Linked DNA regions of Homo sapiens. The protein of the gene in region 1 purifies or fractionates together with the protein of each later gene. This does not show direct contact. Each region holds a gene or a part of one and is shown on either strand. Other genes may lie near its edges.

The links.
Region 2: the proteins of PSKH2 (region 1) and UNC119B purify together in Homo sapiens (affinity purification with mass spectrometry; 3 studies listed by BioGRID and IntAct, with this or other methods). This does not show direct contact.

The regions. Positions count from the first base shown.
Region 1 is NC_000008.11:86,065,175-86,077,117, forward strand, and holds the start of PSKH2 (serine/threonine-protein kinase H2), read right to left. Parts: upstream 4,449-11,943; coding exon 4,264-4,448; intron 3,744-4,263; coding exon of another isoform or gene 3,673-3,743; intron 1-3,672.
Region 2 is NC_000012.12:120,709,305-120,720,470, forward strand, and holds the start of UNC119B (protein unc-119 homolog B), read left to right. Parts: upstream 1-1,153; 5' UTR 1,154-1,170; coding exon 1,171-1,414; intron 1,415-3,969; coding exon 3,970-4,083; intron 4,084-7,323; coding exon 7,324-7,435; intron 7,436-7,565; coding exon 7,566-7,738; intron 7,739-10,615; coding exon 10,616-10,728; 3' UTR 10,729-11,166. UniProt on the Homo sapiens protein: Myristoyl-binding protein that acts as a cargo adapter: specifically binds the myristoyl moiety of a subset of N-terminally myristoylated proteins and is required for their localization.

The DNA.
Region 1 (11,943 bases):
AAAGTAGAAGCTTACTCCTGTTTATAATTTCTCAAAGGCTGAGGATCCCATATCAGAAGACAGAGAATAAACAGTATGTTTCTTTGGGTTGCTTGACTGTGAGCTCAGCCCCAGGCTCATCTTGTACACAGTAGCTGTTAATAAGGAAGAAGTAAATGCAGCTGTGCTATTATAAGAGCCGGTTTCAGCAGTCTGGTGGGAGTAGTGTTAGGGCCACCTTGCAGCCAGTAGCTTCTCACAGTCTCCCTCCATCCCCATACCCACACTTGGAATTTCTCGGCAGTAAAGAGAATTTTAACATGGAATGTATGTCAATAATTTGTAAACCAATTATCCCACAAAAAGGCCAAGAACATATGTTTACCTACGTAACAAACCTGCACATCCTGCACATGTACCCCTGAACTTAAAATAAAAGTTGAAGAAAAAAAGGCCAGGATATCAGCTCAGATTTCAAATGCTAGGGATCTTAAGCTTTAATTATCTGTGTAAACGTCTATTAAAATTTAAGAATCTGGCCAGGCACGGTGGGCTCATCGTGTAATCCCAGCACTTTGGGAGGCCGAGGTGGGAAGACTGTTTGAGCCTAGGAGTTTGAGAGCAGCCTGAGCAAAAAACTGAGACCCCTTCTCTATAACAAATTTAAAAATTAGCCAATCATGATGCACAGCTGTAGCCCCGGCTACTGAGGGGACTGAAGCAGGAGGATCCCTCGAGCCCAGGAATTTGAGGTTGCAGTGAGCTGTGATCAGACCACTGCACTCCAGCTTGGGTGAGAGAGCGAGACCTCTGTCTCAAAAATTAAAAAAATAAAATAAAATAGAATCCTATCAAATTTAACCCTCTACCTCATATTTAAGACATGTTGAGAAAATGCTAGACTTAAAATCACGATTGTATAGCTGGAAAGAATATTAAAGTTGGGTATTTAACCCAACTTCTTGTTTTACTGATGAGGAAATTTGAAGACCACATTAGCCAATTGGTTGTTTACGTTGTAGAGTCAGGATTAGAACGCAGGTCTCCTTTTTTTTTTTTTTTTTGAGATGGAGTTTTGCTCTGTCACCCAGGCTGGAGTACAGTGGCATGATCTTGGCTGACTGCAACCTCTGCCTCCCGGGTTCAAGAGATTCTCCTGCCTCAGCCTCCTGAGTAGCTGAGATTACAGGTGCACACCACCATGCCTGGCTAATTTTTGTATTTTTTTTAGTAGAGACGGGATTTCACCATGTTTGCCAGGCTGGTCTTGAACTCCTGACCTGAAGTGATCTGCCCACCTCAGCCTCCCAAAGTGTTGGGATTACAGGTATGAGCCACTGTGCCTGGACTTCATTTTAATAAAACCTCTCCTAGCTAAGGATGACAGAGAATGGAATGTACTCAGGGAGTACCCAGGGAGAAGGCACGTTTTTATATCACATATTCAATACCAAAGATTCAAATGCAAATACTAAACTATGCTTTAAATAGTCTTACTTCTTTTATTGAGCTTATTTTTCCTGTAACTTTTTTTTTTGCCTTCTTGTTTGTTCTTTATATTCCTGTGTGTATTGAATAAAAATGACATTTGGCTGTACCAGATTACAGAAAACAGCTTTGTTCTCCACAGAGCATTTAATTTTCTGGCCAATTACCTTATCAAAACAGATAGCAATTTAGTAATCTTAAATAGATTCTTTCCCCTTTTCCCTTTCCAACTCTGCTTTTCTATTCACATGCATTCTCAGTGTGATTTTGAAGATAATCACAGGCATTTCAAATTCTATTGCTTTGCAGACCAACCAAGTTTTATATTACCTCTATTGTGGATGAAAGCACTTTGTAAATGCTAATTTATCGCTATGCCCTCAAAGCTGCCATCAAACTCATTTGTTCACAGAATTAATCATATCAAACAAACTACCATTTCTGAGAACTACACGCTTTTGCTCAAATAAAAGAAGCTTTATTCAATACTGTTAAGGGGGCTTCATATTTCCAATATTTGAAAAAATGCTAGTAATTTGGCATTGGAGGAAACAGTACACTTGAAGCCAAGATTTAGAGTGGTGGAAATAAATGCCTCAGATTGTTATTCAATTTGTCCCATAACAAATTCTTATAGCTACAGCCTTGCTCGTGAGTCCTCAACTGCCATGAATGGTGACCAACTTTATGATTTGCGTGGCTATACCTTGTAAAGTGCCTAGCACAGAGGAGTAGCAATAAACACTGAACAAAAGAATCATTCACTGAATACATATTATTCCTGAATCATCATATATATTTTGCAAACATTAAGTAAAGATCACATCAAGCTGGGAAGAATGCCTTTATAAGGTCTTTTCATTTCCTTCACTTTTACCCCTCCACTCTCTTAAAGAGTAGCCTCAGAGTCAGTTTAGTAGGTTGGACAATTTTGTATCATCCCAGAGACTACGTAAATTGGAAATATTACTTTAACCTCAGCTGCTATGATACAAACTGGGAATTTTTGAACATAGATTAAAGATTTGAAACAAGGAAATAATAATAGTGTTACAATCTGCTTGAGAGAAACAATTATAATAAACTCCCAACAAGAAAGTAAATATACTCATATCTAAATTCTATCATCTCTTTTCTGCAAAAGTTATAGATGGAATCACAACGGAGAAGGAAGACGACTGTGTTCTAGTCCCAATTCTACCACTAACTTGGACAAGTCACTTAACCTTTGGGGACACAACTACTCATTGGTTAAAGATGAGCCTTGAGTTAAAATCTCTGAAGCCCTTATAATGTTGAGATCCTCTACTTCTGTGATGCCTTTACACTCTATGGGGCTGGGTCTACCCCTGGATTGGGAATTAGTAGGGTGGATGAAAACTAGACCAGACTAGCATCATCTCTCTGACTACAAATGACCAGAGATGCCATTTAACCAATTCAGTCTTGACAAGACCCTGTACCTACTCAGATTCAGTTCAGTCATATTAGCCAGCCTTGTTCTTCTGTAAGCTTAGCAGCCACCGAACTAATCCTCCAGGAGTCACTGTACTAAAAGTTCTCAAGGAGGCCAGGAAATGGCTCTGCATAGATTCTGGACAGAGCACTGTGACGAAGTGAGCATGCAATTCTAGGACCAGCAGTGCCTTGGGAAGCCAGCTGAGCCACCCATTATTGTGTCTCCCCAAACACACAGAGGAGAAGGGGATTCCGTGATTTACTTGGTCAAAATGTCCAACATGTCCAACATGGTACACTCAGGAGGCCAACCAACCTGAAATCTTCTACATAGGAAGGGCTTATTTGTACTTCATGAAAACAATAATCAGCATTGCACTAATGTCTGCATGAGGACTGGTACCATGCACTGTGCAGCATAATTTACATGTATTACTTTAATTATGCTCACAACAGTCTTATGAGATAGATACTCCCATTTTACAGAGCTAGAAACGAAGGAAGGAAAAAAGCTAAGGAATGTTCTACATGGTACATGATAGAAGATATGGAACTGGACCTCAAGTCTGGCTGACTCAAAGGCGCATCTCTAGTTCACTCGCTGTAATCCCAATTTTTAGAATTAGTGGAAGATCCTTCACACACCAGGTCTGGCAGGACCCAGCCCCAGGATATTAGAGGCAAAGCCGTCTTCCACCGCAGATGCTGGAGGTTGGCAGACAGTCCTCTCACACCCCCACCCCCCACCTCCGAAGATAGGAATTCCTTCCCTTGTTTGCTGCTGCTCCTGCTCTCTTTTTTCCCATCCTCTGAACTCCCTGTTCAGAGATGTCAAAGAGAAATTGTACTGGGCACTTATGGAACACAGCAAGGAAGGCTTATCCCAGACTATTGCAATAGGAGTCGAGGCTTCTGCAACAGGGGAAAGAAAATGGACGCCTTCGAAACAAAAGGCAAGAAAGTTTTTAAGCGCTGGGGTGAGCCAGTGGAAAAGAATGGGAGAAGCTTAGGGAGAGGTGGTCAATGAGATCTGTGTTTGCTACCTGGCCCTTATGGAAGTTAGGCTCCTGCCCTCCCACAGAGACTGGGAGACAGTGGCCCTAACTCTCTTGATGACTACATTTCAAAGGGATGGCTGCCAGGTGCCTGAAAAAGACACTCTTGGGTTGTAGAAGATTTACATCTCAAAAGGGCAGAGAAAGGGGGAGATCAGTGCCTATCATCCGAAAGAACCCTGTCCAAAATTGAGTCAAGCTGAAGGGAACCTCGAGGCGGTCTTGGCCAGGGGTTTTTCTTTGTCAGCCCAGTCCCAGGCCAGTTCCTCACGTGGCGCTTTACCTGGCAAGGACCCGGGGGTCGAACTTGGCTCGGAAGCGAGCCACCTGTATCCTCTGCGCCGCCTGGGCCGCCGCCTCGGGCCCAGGCCCCGCGCCTCCGACGCCGGCTTGGTTTTGACCTTCGTGCTTGGCCCAAGCCAGCGCTGGTGGCCCCGGGACCACCTTCCTGCTGGCGCCGCACCCCATACCCGCAACACGCCCGCCGCTCGCGGGACCTGGGGACTCGGGAAGCAGCCAGCCCCGTTCCTCCGCCCTTTATCAAAGAGCAGCTGCGAGGGGCGGGACCCTCGGAAAGAAACCCCACTGGGGGGTCGTGGTCAGGGAGACAGCCCCCAGGATACCCGCTAACGACCGAGACGCCTGGATCATCGCTGGTCACCGTCTGTGTGTGTAATCTGACGTGATGAAAGCAAAGTCAACCAACAGGCAGAACCTGCGCCTAATTGTCTGGGCTTCACTTTCTGCATCTCTAACCTGACAAAGTGAACATATAAAATTATACGATTGTATAAAGGATATCGTCCCTCTAAAGAACTTTTCGCTGAGCTCATATTCGGATGACATGAACATTAAACATACATATATATATATATTTAAAATTCTAAGAGCTTATAATATTTAAAGTATAACTTCACTGCCTTCTATTGCATTAAACGGATGACAAAGGCCTGTGTCTGGCACTCATGACCTTCATCTTCCGGGTAATCCATCTAAGAGAGAAAAACTGAGGGCCACGATAGATGTCTAGAACCCAGACGAACACCCTAAGCAAATACAGTGAGAAAACCTGTATATACATATACAGTGTATATACAAAACCCGTATATACAAATATAGTGAGAAAACCTGTATATAGATATAAATATATATAAATAAATATAAATATTATGTATGGTAACTTTACATTTTCTATATATTTCATTCTTGTATTATTTATACATATTATACATGTATGTGAATGTGTGTATATATATTATACACACACAGTATTATAATACTTATAAATATTTATCATTTTGATAAATGTATATTGATTATATCACTATATTGATTAGATTTCATTGATATTTGTCAATTATATTCATTCACACACACACACACACACACACACACACACACAAATGATGTGTGGGAAATGAAATCCAGTCACGACCAAGCAAGTCAAGATCACATGCCTCCCAAGTTGTAGAACCGGAACTGGAGGCTGCTTCCCGATTTCCAGGCCAATGCTACTTCAATTTGTGTAATTTCCTTTCTAATTTCATTTAATTTGTAGTTTGGCTTAACAGGGAATGTCTGTGATGAATAAATTAGTCATGAACTTTCCCAGAGCTATATTTTGATGGAAAATTTAAAATACGGCTTGCATATAGCTGAGGGAAAATTAGTTCATCCTGCAAAGAGAGCATAACTACCAAATAATGGACTTTTCTTCCTAAAGAACCCTCAGAATTCTCCAACTACTAAGAAACAAGGAAAGAAGGTTTATTTTAAGCAGGTAAACAACTCGTTCTTATATGTCTCGAGCTTTTGAACTAATTTGCAGAATAGGCTATCTATTAGGTTAGAGCAAAAGTAATTGTGTCTTTGCCATTAAAAGTAAAGGCAAGGCCGGGCATAGTGGCTCACACCTGTAATCCCAGCACTTTGGGAGGCCAAGGCATGTGGATCACCTGAGGTCAGGAGTTCCAGACCACTGTGGCCAACATGGTGAAACCCCATCTCTACTAAAAATACAAACATTAGATGGGCCTGGGGGTGCGTGCCTGTAGTCTCAGCTACTCAGGAGGCTGAAGCAGGAGAATTGTTTGAACCTGGGAGGTGAAGGTTGCAGTGAGCTGAGATCGCGCCACCACTGCACTCCAGCCTGGGTGACAGAGCAAGAGTTCATCTCAAAAGGCAAAAGCTGCAATTACTTTTGCACCAACCTAACAGTATAAACAGAATGGAAGAGAGAAATAAAGGGAACAAACTGAAGTCAGATGTTAAGGTACTACTCAAAAAAACACAAAATTTTTTCCTCAGAGAGCCTGTTGTAAGGATTGTTTGCATAAGGATCGCACAGCAAATAGGAAGCATCTGCTATAAAACCTAAACCTGGGCAGCAGTGAAGGCGCCAGACACTTCCACGAGGCAGGCAGTCCCTCTGCCTGTCCACCTTCTCCCAGCAGTGAGGGCCTTCATAGTAGGCTGCAGAAACCTCTTCTGTCCTGTCTGCAGCTGGCCGCACAGCAGAGAAAGCTTTGTCACAAGCCTCCCACTAAGTCTAAACCATGTTCCTTGAAAATTGGAAAACACAGTCGCTGATTTTAAAGCCCTTAAAAAATGAAAACATTGATGAAACCACTGATTAGTTCTCTTTTGGAAAGCCCCAACTATTAACTAGAAGTGTTGTTGATGTAAATACTTTGCCTGGAGACAAAATTTAAGTACCTGTGCATTTGAAACTTTCACTTTCAAGGACTTCCACTAAGCTCTGAAATGTTAAAATGGTCATAAGTATATCCTTTTAATATGACTAATCTCAGAAAGAATAATTCATAAAGTAACATATAGAAAAATATCCAAATACATAGACTCTCCTGCATGTATTTCTCTTTATTGTGTATAATTGCTTGATTATATGGAGACCACTCAAGCATTGTTTGGGACCATTTGCTATTCACCCATTAATTAACTATTCATAGTTATTTCAATTATATATTTAACTTAATTAAAGTAATAAAATGTTAAAATAGCTCTAGACTTAAGGCCAGCTTTAAATGAAGCTTTATTTTTATATCAATGTGTTTAGTGCTTTTAAGTGGCTACCTGTGACACTTAAAGCAACTGAATAAATGGAAATGGTTCTGTGACATGGTATTTATTATAAAAAGTAATTAGATTGGACCTCCTTCTTAATAAAAAAAAATCGTATTTCAACTGCCATTTATTGCCCAAAAGTCACAAATTCTTACTAGTCAACTGTAACATTCATAATAATGTGTAATACATAGCTCCCATCACCTGATACCAGATTCTACTCTACACGAAGTTTTTAAAGAGAAGAATTAGAAGGACACAAAGAATTAAATCCAGAATGTGTCCTGGACTATCGAGATTCTGAAACTATAGAAACTTCCTAGAATAACTTTCTGACTTACATTTCATACAGTGATTTAATTAAGTGGCTTGGTTTATGACAGATATTCTTCACAAAGTATAATCCAACCCCTAAAGAGTATTTCACTGTAAGGATTTAAGGAACTATGCCAAATCAAAAAATCATTGCAGATTTAGACTAACATTTAGGGAAAACACACTTCTTTCTTTCATGAACAATATTGGTGGAAAATATGGAAAAGAATACAATCGTGATATTCTGTCATCAGTTTTTATTATACTCCAGCAACATGAAGAGTACAAAACAAGTAACTACGGATACCCTAAGGAGTGATATACCAGGAAGCCCTACAATATTATACCCTCCTTTACCTTACAGCTAAAAAGATAGAACCTTCATTTTTAACAGGTAAAATGAAGAATTTGTTTCACTTATTAGTTCTGCTTGAAATAGCTTCAATGTTGTTGCTTTTCAAGTTTTAGTTCTCTTTAGATCCCCCCCTACAGGGATTAATTTTCTCTAAAGTGATCTCCTGCCTCAAACATCAGTTTGAAGGTATACATCTTATCAGCTTCCTTTTCCCCAAGGTGTAGGGTCTGTGTTTGTCATGACAACTGGCATGGGGCTCTTTTAAGCCAATTTCACATACACCATGACGTGTGAAACCAACAATGCAAAGCTACTCTCACAGTTTTCTTCCCATAAACAAATAATAATGAGCTTCTAAGTAGGATGTCTTTGTGTGAAACTCAGAGATGGTGGGCACTTTCCTGCCACCCTGCCAAACTATTTTGCACTATCACAACACCTTACAAAAATAGGACTGTAATAATCCAGGCAAGTCAGTAATAATTTTTGAATTACTGAGAATATTTTTCTGTCACTACACTAATGAATAATTCATGTTAACTTGCATATCTTTATATTTAGCACCAAAGAAAGAATATTTAGCTTTAGTAGAATTTCAAGTTTTATGTTTTGTCTTGTAACTATAAAAAAGAAAATAAAAATTAGTATATAGTAATAAGTGATAGAAAAAATCTCTGCTGTCCAGTAAAAACATAAATTTCATTTTGTTATTGTAGTGACTTAAAGAAATCTCCAGGCACAACAGGAAATGAAGTTTTCTTATTTTGATGCACAAATTTAAAAAGATAAAGTGATAGGGTATTTCACTGTATTTTTGCTGATTTGCCTAAAGGATTTCTGCCTTTTCAAGTTGGCAATTTGCACCCAAAGCTTTCAAAAACGATGGCTAGAAATATGTTTAGTTGCATGGTAAAATAGTTACAATATGTTGCAAGGTAAAAAAAAAAAAAAAAAAAGCCTACATGGCATGATCTCATTTTTAAAATCACAGATAAAATAAGTTCCTATGGTGAGGAATGGAGGCCTCCAGCTGACAGAGAGCAAAGAACTGAGGCCTGCGACAACTATAGGCGTGATCCTGGGAACCGATTCTCAACCTCATCTGAGCCTTGAGACGACTGCTGCTCTGGCCGACAGCCTGACGGCAACCTCCTGAGACAGCTCTGAGAGGAGATTTTCCAGGTTCAAGTCCCGGTACACCACTTACCAGTTCTGTGACCTTAGGAAAGATATTTAACCTCTCTGTCTTCTCAGTTTTCTTATCTGTGAAATTGAAATAATAATAACACAAATGTTATAGGGTTGCTGGGAATCATTTAATTCTTTTACTTTTTATTTGTTATTTTTTACAGACTAGGTCTCTTTCTGTCAGCCAGGCTGGAGTGCAATGATATGATCACAGCTCACCACAGCCTGATCACAGCTCACCACAGCCTTGACCTCTGGGTTCAGGGCTCAAGCAATTCGCCCACCTCAGCCTCCTGAGTACCTGGGACTACAAGTGCACACCTCTACACCTAGCTAATTTTTTTTTTTTTTTGTACAGACAATGTCTTGCTATGTTGCCCAGGCTGGAAATAATTTAATTCATGTGAAGCACTTACATCAGCACCTGGAATATTATAAATGCTCATAAATATTATCTTGTATAAGTGAATGGTCCTAGGTGTGGTGGCTCACACCTGTAATCCCAACACTTTAGGAGGCTGAGACAGGCGGATCAGTTGATACTAAGAGTTTGAGACCAGACTAAGCATATAGTGAGACTCTGTCTACACAAAAAATTATCCTGGCATGGTGGTGTGCACCTGTAGTCACAGCTTAAGCAGGAGGATCCCTCGAACCCAGGAATTTGAGGTAGCAGTGAGCTACGGATCACACCACTTCAGTCCAGCCTGGATGACACAGCAAGACCCTGTCTCAATAATAAATAAATAAATGGCTTCAAGGGGTTGCATTAGTTATCTATTGCTGCATAACAAATTTCCCCAAAATTTTACAGTTTTAAAACAACAAGCATTTATTTTCTGAAGATTGAGTATATGAGAGGGTAGATCTGGCTCAGGATTTGAGGAGGAAGGTTGCGGCCAAGCTGTCTGATGAGGCTACAGTCATCACAAGCCTTGACAGGAACTGAATCCCCTTCCAAGTGCATGCACGTGACTGTCAGCAGGCCTCAGTTCCCAGCTGGCTGTTGGCAGAAGGCCTCCACTCCGCACCACGTGGGTTTCTCCATAGGCTGCCTGAGTGTCCTTGCAGCATGGCAGCTGGCATCCCCCATAGCCAGTGAGGAGTGTGAGTGTGCCTGAGCAGATGAGCAGGAGAAAACACAAACAGAAGCTTCGGTCTCTCATAACTCAATCTCAGAAGTGGCATGCCATCACTTTTGCCACATGTTGTTAGTCATGCAGAGCAACTCTTGTCAATGTGGGAGGAAACTCCGCAGGGATGTGGCTACCAGGAGGTGGGGATTTGGAGAAGCCATCATGGAGGCTGGCTTCTACTGTCATGGAACTGGGACTGATGAGTGAAATTTCACTACAAAGAGAATTCTTTTTTTTTGAGACAGGATCATACTACGTTGGTCAGGCTAGTCTCCAATTCCTGGGCTCAAGTGATCCTCCTGCCTCAGCCTCCCAAATTGCTGGGATTATAGGTGTGAGCCACCGCACCCAAAGGGGAATTTTGAAAGTCAAAGATAAATCTAGAGATGAACACTATGCTTAGGAAATTGCAGGCTGTCGATCACCAGAGCTGTTTAAGCAGCCTGGGCACCCCTTGGCCTTGCTGAGGAAAAGGATACTCAAGCACAAGAGTGATTGGACTTGAATCTTCAGATCCCTTCCAAGTCTGGGCTTCTGTGACTTTTTCTTTCATGTGGTCAATTCTAATCATAACTAGGTAGTAAACCTCTTGAAAACCTAACTCTTTGTGTCCAGCCTAGTATTCTAAACAAAGAATGATCTCTATAAATTTTTTTATTATACTTTAAGTTCTGGGGTACATGAACAGAATGTGCAGTTTGTTACATAGGTATATACATGCCATGGTGGTTTGCTGCACCCATCAACCCATCACCTACGTTAGGTATTTCTCCTAATGTTTTCCCACTCCTAGCCTTCCAACCCATGACAGGTCCCAGTTTGTGATGTTCCCCTCCCTGTGCCCATATGTTTTCATTGTCCAACTCCCACTTATGAGTGAGAACATGTGCTGTTTGGTTTTCTGTTCCTGTGTTAGTTTGCTGAAAATGATGGTTTCCACTTTCACCCATGTCCCTGCAAGGGACATGAACTCATCCTTTTTTCTGGCAGCATAGTATTCCATGGTGTATATGTGCCACATTTTCTTTATCCAGTCTATTATTGATGGACATTTGGGTTGGTTCCAAGTCTTTGTTATTGTGAATAGTGCCACAATAAACACATGTGCATGTGTCTTTATAGTAGCATGATTTATAATCCTTTGGGTATATACCCAGTAATGGGATGGCTGGGTCAAATGGTATTTCTAGTTCTAGATCCTTGAGGAATCGCCACACTATCTTCCACAATGGTTAAACTAATTTATACTCTCACCAACAATGTAAAAGTGTCCCTATTTCTCCACATCCTCTCCAGCATCTGTTGTTTCCTGACTTTTTAACAATCGCCATTCTAACTGGCGTGAGTTGGTATCTCATTGTGGTTTTGATTTGCATTTCTGTAATGACCAGTGATGATGAGCATTTTTTCTATGTCTGTTGGCTGCATAAATGTCTTCTTTTGAAAAGTGTCTGTTCATATCCTTTGCCCACTTTTTGATGGAGTTATTTGATTTTTTCTTGTAAATTCATTTAAGTTCCTTGTAGATTCTGGATATTAGCCCTTTGTCCAATGGATAGATTGAAAAAATTTTCTCCCATTCTGTAGGCTGCCTATTCACTCTGATGATAGTTTCTTTTACTGTGCAGAAGCTCTTTAGTTTAATTGGATCCCATTTGTCAATTTTGGCTTTTGTTGCCATTGCTTTTGGTGTTTTAGTCATGAAGACTTTGCCCATGCCTATGTCCTGAATGGTATTGCCCAGGTTTTCTTCTAGGACTTTTATGGTCCTAGGGCTTACGTTTAAGTCTTTGATCCATCTTGAGTTGATTTTTGTATAAGGTGTAAGGAAGGGGTCCAGTTTCAATTTTCAGCATATGGCTAGCCACTTTTCCCAACACCATTT
Region 2 (11,166 bases), on another chromosome or scaffold:
TTAGCTGAACTGCTGGGAATTCAGGGGTGAGGCAGACCCAATCCCTGCCCTCACTCTTACATCTCCTGTAGCCTAGCCCAATGTCTAGCCCAGGGCCTGGCACAGTAGGGCTTACGGATGGCAATCTCATTGGAAAGTTTGTCTTGAAACTGCCTTTGCAAAACAAACACTGCTTTAACTTACCTTCTATGCTAAATATATTAATAAACATTTTCTCAAGATGCATTGTCCACTAATAGCTTAGTGTTGAAGAACAGGCCTTGGGTCAGATGGACCTGGATTAAAATCCCTGTTCCCTCCTCTTACTGCTTGAGGGACTTTGGACATGTTACCTGACTTCTCTGAACTTGAGCTTCCTGATCTGTAAAATGGAGACAGTAATACCTCACAGGGTTGTTGTGAGGTGAGGAGCCTGCCCTATAGCAAGTGTCCTGCCATATAGCAAGTGCGCAGTAAACACTGGCCATTCTTCTTCTTGGTGTGATTACTGGGAATTAGTTGCCATTGTGCTGTTGGGACTGGTGACAGAACTCTTGGATTGAGAATGCCGAGATGGTGCACGGAAGATTCTGTGTGCTCTTTCAGACCAGGAGGAGGATGAGGAGGAGGAAAGTTTATATGACGTAAATTCATTTGACCGTAAGATATGTATTTAAACATCGTGGAGGATCTTGGGGGTCTGATGGGGAGTGGGGTTGCTGAAGCTCCAGCCACCCCTAGGCCCTCCACCTGGCAGGACCAAAGTTGGGGCAGTAGCCGAAGCACCGCCCCCCGGGCCCCGCAGGAGTGTGCAGTCACCCAGTTAGGCCTATCTTGGCCTGCCCATCACTCCTGGCCTGCGGTCTCCTAACCCTGTGGCAGCAGCAGCATTCCCTGAATGGATCGAAGGCTGCCATGGTGTCGTCCGCTGAATTGCTATAGGAGTCAGCCCAGGGCTGCTCATGTGCACCTCAGGTTGCTGATGGCAGCTCTAGTTATTTGGGGATGGAAGTTTGGGGAGAGTGGGCCTTGGTCCACCCTGTGCGAAAGGGAATTCCACAGCCCCCCGGGCGCCCGCCCCCGCCCCCGCCCCGCCCCCTCCCCGCCCCTTCCCCGCCGGGCCCCGGGCCCCGCCCCCGCTCTCCATAGTTACCGCGCTGTGGAGGCGGCGGCCATCTTGGCGGCGGAGCGATGAGCGGGTCTAACCCGAAGGCTGCGGCCGCGGCGTCGGCGGCTGGGCCCGGGGGGCTGGTGGCTGGCAAGGAGGAGAAGAAGAAGGCGGGCGGCGGCGTCCTGAACCGCCTGAAGGCGCGGCGGCAGGCGCCCCACCACGCGGCCGACGACGGCGTCGGGGCAGCGGTCACGGAGCAGGAGCTGCTGGCGCTGGACACCATCCGGCCCGAGCACGTCCTGCGCCTCAGCCGGGTCACCGAGAGTGAGTGCCGCGCGGGCCGCGCCCTCCCCTCGCGCCGTGCCCCGGCTCCCGGAGCCTTCAGCGGACCCGGCCACTTGACCAGCGCGGGGGTCCCCGCCAGACCCCCTCGGCCGGCCGGGCCGCGCTTCCCGCTGCCCCGCCGGCCGGGCTTTGCTCCCGCCACGCTCACGTAGCTCTGGTGGGGAAGGACTCTCCTGGGCTGGACCGCATTCCTGTGAGTCCGGCCACGCTAGGATGCCCTTCGGCCGGTCGGCTCCCCAGCTCTGCCGGACCTGTTTGGGTAGAGGGCCCCGTTCAGCTGAACTGGATCCTCCTGAGCCGGCCGGGGGCCGAGGTCCCCTAATAAATGGGCCCCTGGGCCCTCAGCCTGGAACCCCCGGCCATCAGTGAAGTTCCCGCTCAGCCAGGCTCCCCCAGCCCTCTGGCAGGCCAGAAGCCTTACCTGCTTCCTCCGCCCTGGCCCCATGGCAGCCCTCCCCCATTGCAGCCTGCCCGGCCTCCCTCCCTCTTTGGGTCGGGAGCGTTGCCCCTTAGTGTGCAGATGGGTTCTTCCTCAAAACACATAGCCGTGGCATTTCCTGCTCATTTAAAACTGTGCCACATTAAAACAAAAATAAAGTTTCAGTTTGTGTACAGACTCCGACATGTGAATCCTGCTTTTGACATTCTCGTGAATTAAGAATGATTTCAGAGTTTCAGAAATGCGTTTCCTGCACAAAAGGCAACCATCCTAAGCTTTTTCGTTGATAGGAGGATGGGTGGGAAGAAAAATGTTGCCCAGTCCCTGCCCTGGGTGATCTCCCTTTTTCTGTTCTCTGCCAAGCCAGTCCCTGACTTGACGTCTTTTCTCTTGCTGCTGTTTTCCCTGCAGGAGTGTGCACTCACCTAGTTAGGCCTATCTTGGCCTGCCCATCACTCCTGGCGTGCAGTCTCCTAACCCTGTGGCAGCAGCAACATTCCCTGGATGGATCGAAGGCTGCCATGGTGTCTGCTGAGCTGCTATAGCAGGCAGCCCAGGGCTGTTCAGGTGCACCTCAGGTTGCCGATTGCAGCTCTAGTAATTTGGGGATGGAAATTTGGGGGGAGTAGGCCTTGGTCCACCCTGTGCGAAAGGGAATTCCCATTTCCTAAAAGAGTTTTAATTTGATTCTAGATATTTGGATGCCCCCGTTTCCCAATACTGTTTGGGTTGAGACTGTCCTTACCAGACCTGAACGTATCTTTAGACATTCTTGTTAGTTTTATTGAAACAGTGTGAAAAAGCTTCTTTTCTTCTGAACCAGTTTTCATTTGGGGCTCTGAAAGTACAGATGCTCAGCACCTGGTCTTGGTAACCTCATGCCCTCTCCTGCCATCCAAGTGAGTTAGGGTATTCTGTGCCTGGCCCTAAGCAGGATTCTCAGTGGGCACTCAGATCCTATCTGGGGGCTTGGGATTGTTGCTCATTGTCCAAACCCACCTCTGCAGCTTCTTAGAGTCTGGCAACCTCTTTGTTACTCTTCTTAACGTCTCGTTCATTCTATCCAGCAGATTATTTGAGTACCCTCTAAGAGTCCAAAGCCAATGTTAGCCTTTTTAGCAGTTACAGAATAATCAGTAGTTGTCAAGTTTGTCGTCTTAATAAAGAGACAACTTGTAAAACACGAAAACAACTAACTCAGGCAATAAAAGATCAAGTATCAAAATGAGCTGTGGAGAAGATGCTATCCGGAATCATCCTAGAAAGAAATCAGTGAAATTTGCTGTGATTAGAATTATTTCAATTTGCGGCTCATGTTCTAGTCACTTGGGCCTAATGTCTTCACCGGCAGATTTATCCTCTTGCCTGGATATGTATGATATGTATTGTCTACTGTATGATTTTGTGTAGCCCACAAACTAAGATTAGGTTTGTACATTTTTAAATGGTTGAAAAAAACTTTAAAATCTTGAGACACGTGGTTATGTAAAATTCATATTTCAGTGTCCATAAATACAGTTTTACTGGAATATAGCCACATTCATTCATTTGCGTATTGTCTGTGGATGCTTTTGTGGCTACAATGATAGAGTTGAGTAGTTGTGACAGAGACCATGTGGCGGCAAAGCCTAAATTATTTAGAATCTGGCTCTACAGAAAAGTTTGCTGATCTCGGCTTTCTTACACTGACAGTTGGCAAACTAACGTTGGCAAACTAGCACTGTATTATCTGCTAAGTCAGTTTAAATGTCTTAGATTGGAATTCTATAAAAAGTTCGCCCTGTTCTGACATCCAACTTGATAGATGATGAAAGATTTTTATGTGTTTCCAAAGAAATCCACCTTTTCTATCCTAGTTTCTAAAAGTTTTGCAATTTTTCATCCAAAGCAAGTCCTTGTTATTTTTTTTCTTTGTTGGATCCCCTAATTCTGTCCATACAACTTCTGCTGGTGATAACACATGAGAAAGTTTTTGGGAGTATTTTAAGTGTGTTGTGTAAGAAAAAATCTGAGTTTGCTTCAAAACTTGAGAATTAAATAAATGGTAGTTTTGGAGGATTATTTAACAGTGTTGGTTTCTCTCTCTTGTTTTCAGATTATTTATGTAAACCCGAAGACAACATCTACAGTATTGATTTCACCCGCTTCAAAATTCGAGATTTGGAGACAGGGACAGTACTTTTTGAGATTGCCAAACCTTGCGTTTCAGGTAGGCCTCTACGTTGTGGTGACCACTAGACAGTTTTGAGCCAAAGGTCTTTGAAACTCAAATCTTTGTGTGCCACTGCATCCTGTTTCTTGGACTCCAGTGTGTCCCACTTCTGTGACCTCTTCCCGTGGCCTGGTCTGCCAGGCATGGTGGTTTGAAGCTGCGTTCAGAGGCTGATGTTTGTTGGATGTCTATTCTGTGCTGGTCACTGTGTTCCACGTCTTTGTGCACATCAGTGTATGTAATCCTCACACCTCTTTGAGGAATTACTGTTATCTCTGTTTTACAGCGAAGGATCTGAGGCCTACAATTCCCAGGCGGCTCTTTCCTAAGGCCCTGTGCTGGTTCATCTTACCATGTTGCCTCCAGTTGGGAAAGGAATCCTTGAAATTAAACTATAATGAGGAAAACTCACCTGAGCCTGGTGCCCTCTTGGAGGGTGATAGGGAGGATCCTGGTCCAGACATGAGGCAGTTTGAGCCATCTTCTTGCTCTCTTTTACATATTGCCTTGGAGTTCCCAGACCTAGTTTGGATTTTAATCTCAACCATTTTCTGGAAGAACAGACCCAGGAACTCAACTACTTGGGGTTCCTTAAATTAGCCTCCCATAGCCGCTTCCTGTGCTTGTGATAAAGTGCCAGGCTGATCTGGACCACAGAAGCCTTTGGAGCACCTCACTGGAGGTTTAGCGCCCCCTGGAGTTAGTCATTTGTTAGAACACTGGTACAGATACCCATAGTATCAGTGTGGTTTGTAAACTTACTTTGCAGTGTTTCTCATCTGATTTGCTACTTAGAGCCTGCAAATTTGATAAGGCCCCGATTTCACCCCTACCTGGTGGTATTTATGCTATCATAATCTCATACTGACCAAGGCACCTAAAGGCTCAAGTTCATGGGTAATTTTGTTGTTGTTGTTTTGTGGGTTTTTTTTTTGTGTTGTTTGTTTTGAGACACAGTCTTGGTCTGTCACCCAGGCTGGCGTGCAGTGGCACAATCTTGGCTCACTGCAACCTCTGCCTCCTGGGTTCAAGAGCTTCTCCTGCCTCAGCCTCCCAAGTAGCTGAGATTACAGGTGCCCACCACCATGCCTAGCTAATTTCTGTATTTTTAATAGAGACGGGATTTCACCATGTTGGTCAGGCTGGTGTCAGACGCCTGACCTTTGATTCGCCTGCCTTGGTCTCCCAAAGTGCTGGGATTACAAGCGTGAGCCACCGCGCCTGGTTGCTTATGGGTAGTTTTTTATTGGGATGGTCAGATCAAGACCAGCTAGCTTCCTGGGTCTGTGGTGTTCTCATCTCTAAGCCACATATCACAGTACCTGGGACATTGCAAGGACTCCAGGCCTACTACAGGTATGTGGATTTGGATTAGACTCAAGAGTTGTCATTTCAATATAAGACGGAACTGTTTCAAGAAGGTCAGCTGAAGATACTGTAAAGTATCTTGGTTTTCAGTCTCTCTAGTTTTTACATTTAAGGATCTTGATTCACTTGTAATATTCCCCACATTGAGGCTGGGTGCGGTGGATCACACCTGTAATTCTAGCACTTCGGGAGGCTGAGGCAGGCAGATCACTTGAGCCCCAGGAGTTTGAGACCAGCCTGGGCAACATGGCAAAACCCCATCTGTACAAAAAATACAAAAAAATTAGCCAGGCGTGGTGGCACATGCCTGTGGTCCCAGCTACTCAGGAGGCTGAGGTGGAAGGATGGCTTGAGCCTGGGAGATCAAGGCTGCAGTGAGCCGTGATCACTGCATTGCACTCCAGCAAAGGTGACAGAGTGAGACCCTATCTCAAAATAAATCAATAAATATAAACAACAGATTATCCTCACACTGAATCACTACCTTTCTGCAGCACTTGTTCTGATGAATTTGAATCCCCAAGATTTGCTGTCTCTCTGAGTCACATTGTTGGAGCCAGGGTTTTAGAGTCTCTGGGGGTGAACCCCTACTCAGCCTGGTTGCCCAGTCGCTCTTGGGCTTGTCAAAAGCAGAGATGTTTGATGCTGAAAAAGTCTTCTCTTATGTTGTACTCATGTACAGCTTAGACCTGGAGAAAATATCCTCACTGGACACTGGAGGGTACTAACTCCTATTCACATTAGAATGCTTGTTCTCTGATTCTTTTTTTTTTTTTTTTTTTTTTTTTTTTTGAGACGGAGTTTCACTCTTGTTGCCCAGGCTGGAGTGCAATGGCACAATCTCGGCTCACTACAACCTCCGCCTCCCGGGTTCAAGCAATTCTCCTGCCTCAGCCTTCCGAGTAGCTGGGATTACAGGCATGCGCCACCACGCTGGGCTAATTTTGTATTTTTAGTAGAGACAGGGTTTCTCCATGTTGGTCAGGCTGGTCTTGAACTCCTGACCTCAGGGGATCCGCCTACCTCGGCCTCCAAAAGTGCTGGGATTACAGGCATGAGCCACCGTGCCCAGCCCTCTGATTCATTTTACAAATCTTTCATCTCCTGGGTTCAGGAATGGACTAGACCGGAGACCAGCATTAACCTTGTAGAGGCCACCACATCTGCTTCACCCTTTCCCAGGTGGTCAAAGGGTTAGGCCTGGTATGGCCTAGAAGTAAACATCAGTCAAGGAACTATAGTATCCCAAGGCTGTAGGTCAATGTCTTCTATTTAAATAACAAAATTATTTTTAGTGGTTTATCTTTGCAGCCTGTCAGAAATTTTTATATTCATTGAAATAACTTTCTGATAAGTGTCAACTTTTGTAGCCTCATTCTTTTAGGTTGGTGCTAGCGCTTCAACTTGGTTAACTGCAGACCTAGTCTGAATAGAATAGACCATGTCAGAGGCCCAGTTCCCAGCTTGTGTTTCAGGTTTCACCCTTAGGATATGGCATAAGCTCTCAAACTATTAAAAAAGGCTAATAGCTTAGTGTTGAAGAACAGGCCTTGAGTCAGATGGACCTGGATTCAAATCCCTGTTCCCTCCTCTTACTGTTTGAGGGACTTTGGACATGTTACCTGACTTCTCTGAACTTGAGCTTCCTGATCTGTAAAATAGAGACAGTAACACCTCGAAGGGTTGTTGTAAGGAGTCTGGACTATGGCAAGTGTCCTGCTATATAGCAAGTGCGCAGTAAACACTGGCCATTCTTCTTGTTGGTGTGGTTACTGGGATTGGTTGCCATTGTGCTGTTGGGACTGGTGATAGAACTCTTGGATTGAGAATGTCGAGATGGTGCACTGAAGATTCTGTGTGCTCTTTCAGACCAGGAGGAGGATGAGGAGGAGGGAGGTGGAGACGTGGACATCAGCGCAGGACGTTTTGTCCGCTATCAGTTCACACCGGCATTTCTCCGCCTCCGGACAGTCGGGGCTACGTGAGTACCATTACTACCTGAGGGGAGAACATTCTGTTTGTTCACAGAGAAGAGTGTTTTCGGTTGGGTTTTGGGTTGGCTTTAGAGGAGGGAGGAGGCAAAGTCGGGCTTACAGAGATTTATTTTCCAGGGTGGAGTTCACAGTGGGAGACAAACCTGTTTCAAACTTCCGGATGATCGAACGGCACTATTTCCGGGAACACTTGCTGAAAAACTTTGACTTTGATTTTGGCTTCTGCATCCCCAGCAGTAGGAACACTTGTGAACATATCTATGAGTTTCCCCAGCTTTCGGAGGATGTCAGTATGTATCCCCTGACCCTTACAGCACTCTAGATTCTGAGGGCTACAAGGAACAAACCTTGAAACCCATCTGGTCCAGCGCCCTGGCATTGTCTCGTGGCAGTGCTGACATGATGCGTATCTAGTCATTTGACCTCAGGCTTCTCATTTCCTATTGCTCCTGGCTCCTGTTCTAAACTCTGACTCGGCCCGTATGGGAGCAATGAAGGGTTTGTTTGTTTTTGTTTTTGTTTTTTTCCCCTGAGACAGAGTCTTGCTCTGTCTGTTGCCCAGGCTGGAGTGCAGCAGCGCGATCTCGGCTCACTGTAACCTCTGCCTCCCAGGTTCAAGCGATTCTCCTGCCTCAGCCTCCTGAGTAGCTGGGATTACACCACACTTGGCTAGTTTTTGTATTTTCAGTAGAGACGGGATTTCACCATGTTGGTCAGGCTGGTCTCGAACACTTGACCTCATGATCCACTCTCCTCGGCCTCCCACAATGCTGGGATTACAGGTGTGAGCCACTGCCCCCGGCCCTTTTGTTTTTTTCTTTTTTTTTTGAGACGGAGTCTTGCCCTATTGCCCAGGCTGGAGTGCAGTGGCGCAGTCTTGGCTCAGTGCATCCTCCGTCTCCTGGGTTCAAGTGATTCTCCTGCCTCAGCCTCTCGAGTAGCTGGGATTATAGGCACCTGCCACCATGCCCGGCTAATTTTTTGTATTTTTTGTAGAGACAGAGTTTCACCATGTTGGTCAGGCTGGTCTCGAACTCCTGACCCTGTGATCCACCTGCCTCATCCTCCCAAAGTACTGGGGATTACAGGCGTGAGCCACTGTGCTCAGTCTGAAGGTTTTTTTTTTTTTTCTTTTTGAGACGGAGTCTTGATCTTGTCACCCAGGCTGGAGTGCAGTGGCGCAATCTCGGCTCACTGCAAGCTCTGCCTCCTGGGTTCATGCCATTCTGCCTCAGCCTCCTGAGTAGCTGAGACTACAGGTGCCCACCACCATGCCCGGCTAATTTTTTGTATTTTTAGTAGAGACGGGGTTTCACCGTGTTAGCCAGGATAGTCCCAATCTCCTGACCTCGTGATCCGCCTGCTTCGGCCTCCCAAAGTGCTGGAATTACAGGCTTGAGCCACTGCGCCCGGCCGGTCTGAAGGTTTTAATAATACAGGCCATCCTTTTAGATGCCTCCTGTGGGAAGACAGTGCCTAAGGGAGATAAAAGGAGGCCTGTGACCATCCCTGGGACGCTGATCAGATAAAGCACCTCTCCTGTGCACTGTTAGTCATGGTTTTCCATTGTGTTTTAGTCATTGGCCCTTCACTTTTTTCTTAATCAGAGCTAGATGTGAAACTGCAGGCTAAATAGAATCAAGGCCAGAGGACTTCTTTTCCATTCCCTGCAGGATAGAGAGTTGATTGGATAAAGTGTTGAGATAGATCCAGCAGGAAGGAATGGGGCTGTTGTAGATTTTGGGGCAGGAGTGAGAAGGTGGAAATACTGTTTGAGGAAGAGTGGCCTAGACCTGGGGAGGGCACCAGAGGGAGAAGGCTGCTGCCGTGTAGCCTCGGCAAGGGAAGATGGGGACCAAACGAGAGAGAAAGAACAGCCCTTGTCAGTTTCTGCAACTTTGGCCTAGCCACCTCAGGTTCGCATCCTTTGTGAATAGTTAGGGAAAATTCAAGTCATTTATGAGGGTGTGAATAGAATCCTGTGACTAGTGATGCCTGTAGTTGCCTTGCTGGCATCACTGATTGGTCCTCTCAGAATCCCAGGTCCTTAAGAATTGTCATATTCTGAAAACCAGATAACCTTTAATCGTGTGGCAGTACAGTTCCCAGGTAAAATGAGGATTGCTGAGATGTGGGGCAGGGTGTTGACGACAGCATCTGGTTCTGACTTGAACCCCTCTTCCCAAGCTGGCTAGAATATGTAGATACTTGCAAGAAAAGATGATGTATAGTGTTATAAGTTTTACCCATGAAGCCAAATCAGCCTGGAGGGCAATATTATGCATATAAACCGAGTAGTTTTGGCATTGGTGGGTTCAAAGAACTTTAAAAAATCAGTTTCACTTTTTGAGAACTGTGGTGAGCAACAGCATTTCCTCCAGGGGACTCCAAATGGCATGTAATCATTAACTCAAAACTGATCAGAGGTAGTATTATCTTTATTCTCCAGTATGGTTAAAGACTCAAAATGGCATGTAATCATTAACTCAAAACTGATCAGAGGTAGTGACTGTTAATTATCTTTACTCTCCAGTATGGTTAAAGAGGTCTGGGCAATTGCCTGAACAAACAAGACTTTACTTTAGATCCCAAGACAGGCAGACCTATTGCTGAATCATTTGCGAGTTAATACCCAGAAGGTCTCCGGAGAAGGCTCCCTGCCCTGTGTTCCTTGCACTCATTCCAATCTAGGTTTCCTTGGGTTGTCAGGGTTGTGTGTGGAGGTGGGCACAGTGAGGCTCAGATTTCTGAATTTGGAGTGGAATGTCTAGAGGTGGGCCACTGACCAGAGGCCAGGGCTGGCTTTGGTCAGCTGAGAGCACTGAGTAAATAGGTTGGTGGGGTCCATGTTGGGAAGAGGGGTGAGCACATTTCCCTGGTATCTTGGCTGAAGAATCCAGGCTGGAGATGACAGAGGAGGCCATGGTGGAGAGTTGATTGCATCCTTATGTTGAAATGGAGATCATGTTCAGCTGGGGGGCCTCTGTGGTCTCCCCAGCTGTCAAGGGCTGCCTCCCTCTGTTCTGACCTCATCGTTATTCTGGCAGAGTATACTCTGAAGCGCTGGCTTATTTTGGAGGGGATGCAAAGTTTTCTCCCACCTACCCTGTGGGGCAGACTCAAACATAATTCTTTGCTTTTTTCTTCCCCCTTTGCCTGACTTGCAGTTCGTCTAATGATTGAAAATCCTTACGAGACCCGCTCTGACAGCTTCTACTTTGTTGACAACAAGCTGATAATGCACAACAAGGCTGATTATGCCTATAATGGAGGCCAGTAAGTGCTGCAAGAGTAGATAGGGGAGGTGCTTTGCCGCGGCCACAAGATCCTGGCACACGGAGATGATCGAAGCTGCAGTTTGTCAACACACATCTGGAACCTGGCCCCAGGAAGCCAAGGCTGGGGTGGCAGTTTCCTGCGCGCCAAAGGAGCTGCCAAACAGTGCTGTGTTTTCTTCCCCAGTATTTTTTCTTCCCTTTTTTTCCTGCCCCGTAGGTTGCAGAGGTACTATAGTAAAGTAAAAGGTTAGGATAAGGGTCCTGGAATCCAGATAAAAAAGTTTATTTTCCGTAGTTCTGGCTGCCTGTTGGTTGTCTTGACGACCAGGCATAGCTGTGCCTGGTGAGAAGGCTCTGGCCAGGCCCACCAGCAGGTCAGCAGCTCTTAAGGTTCCTGGGTGCTGTGGGAAGCTGAAAGGTAGGCCTCTTCCAGGTAGCTC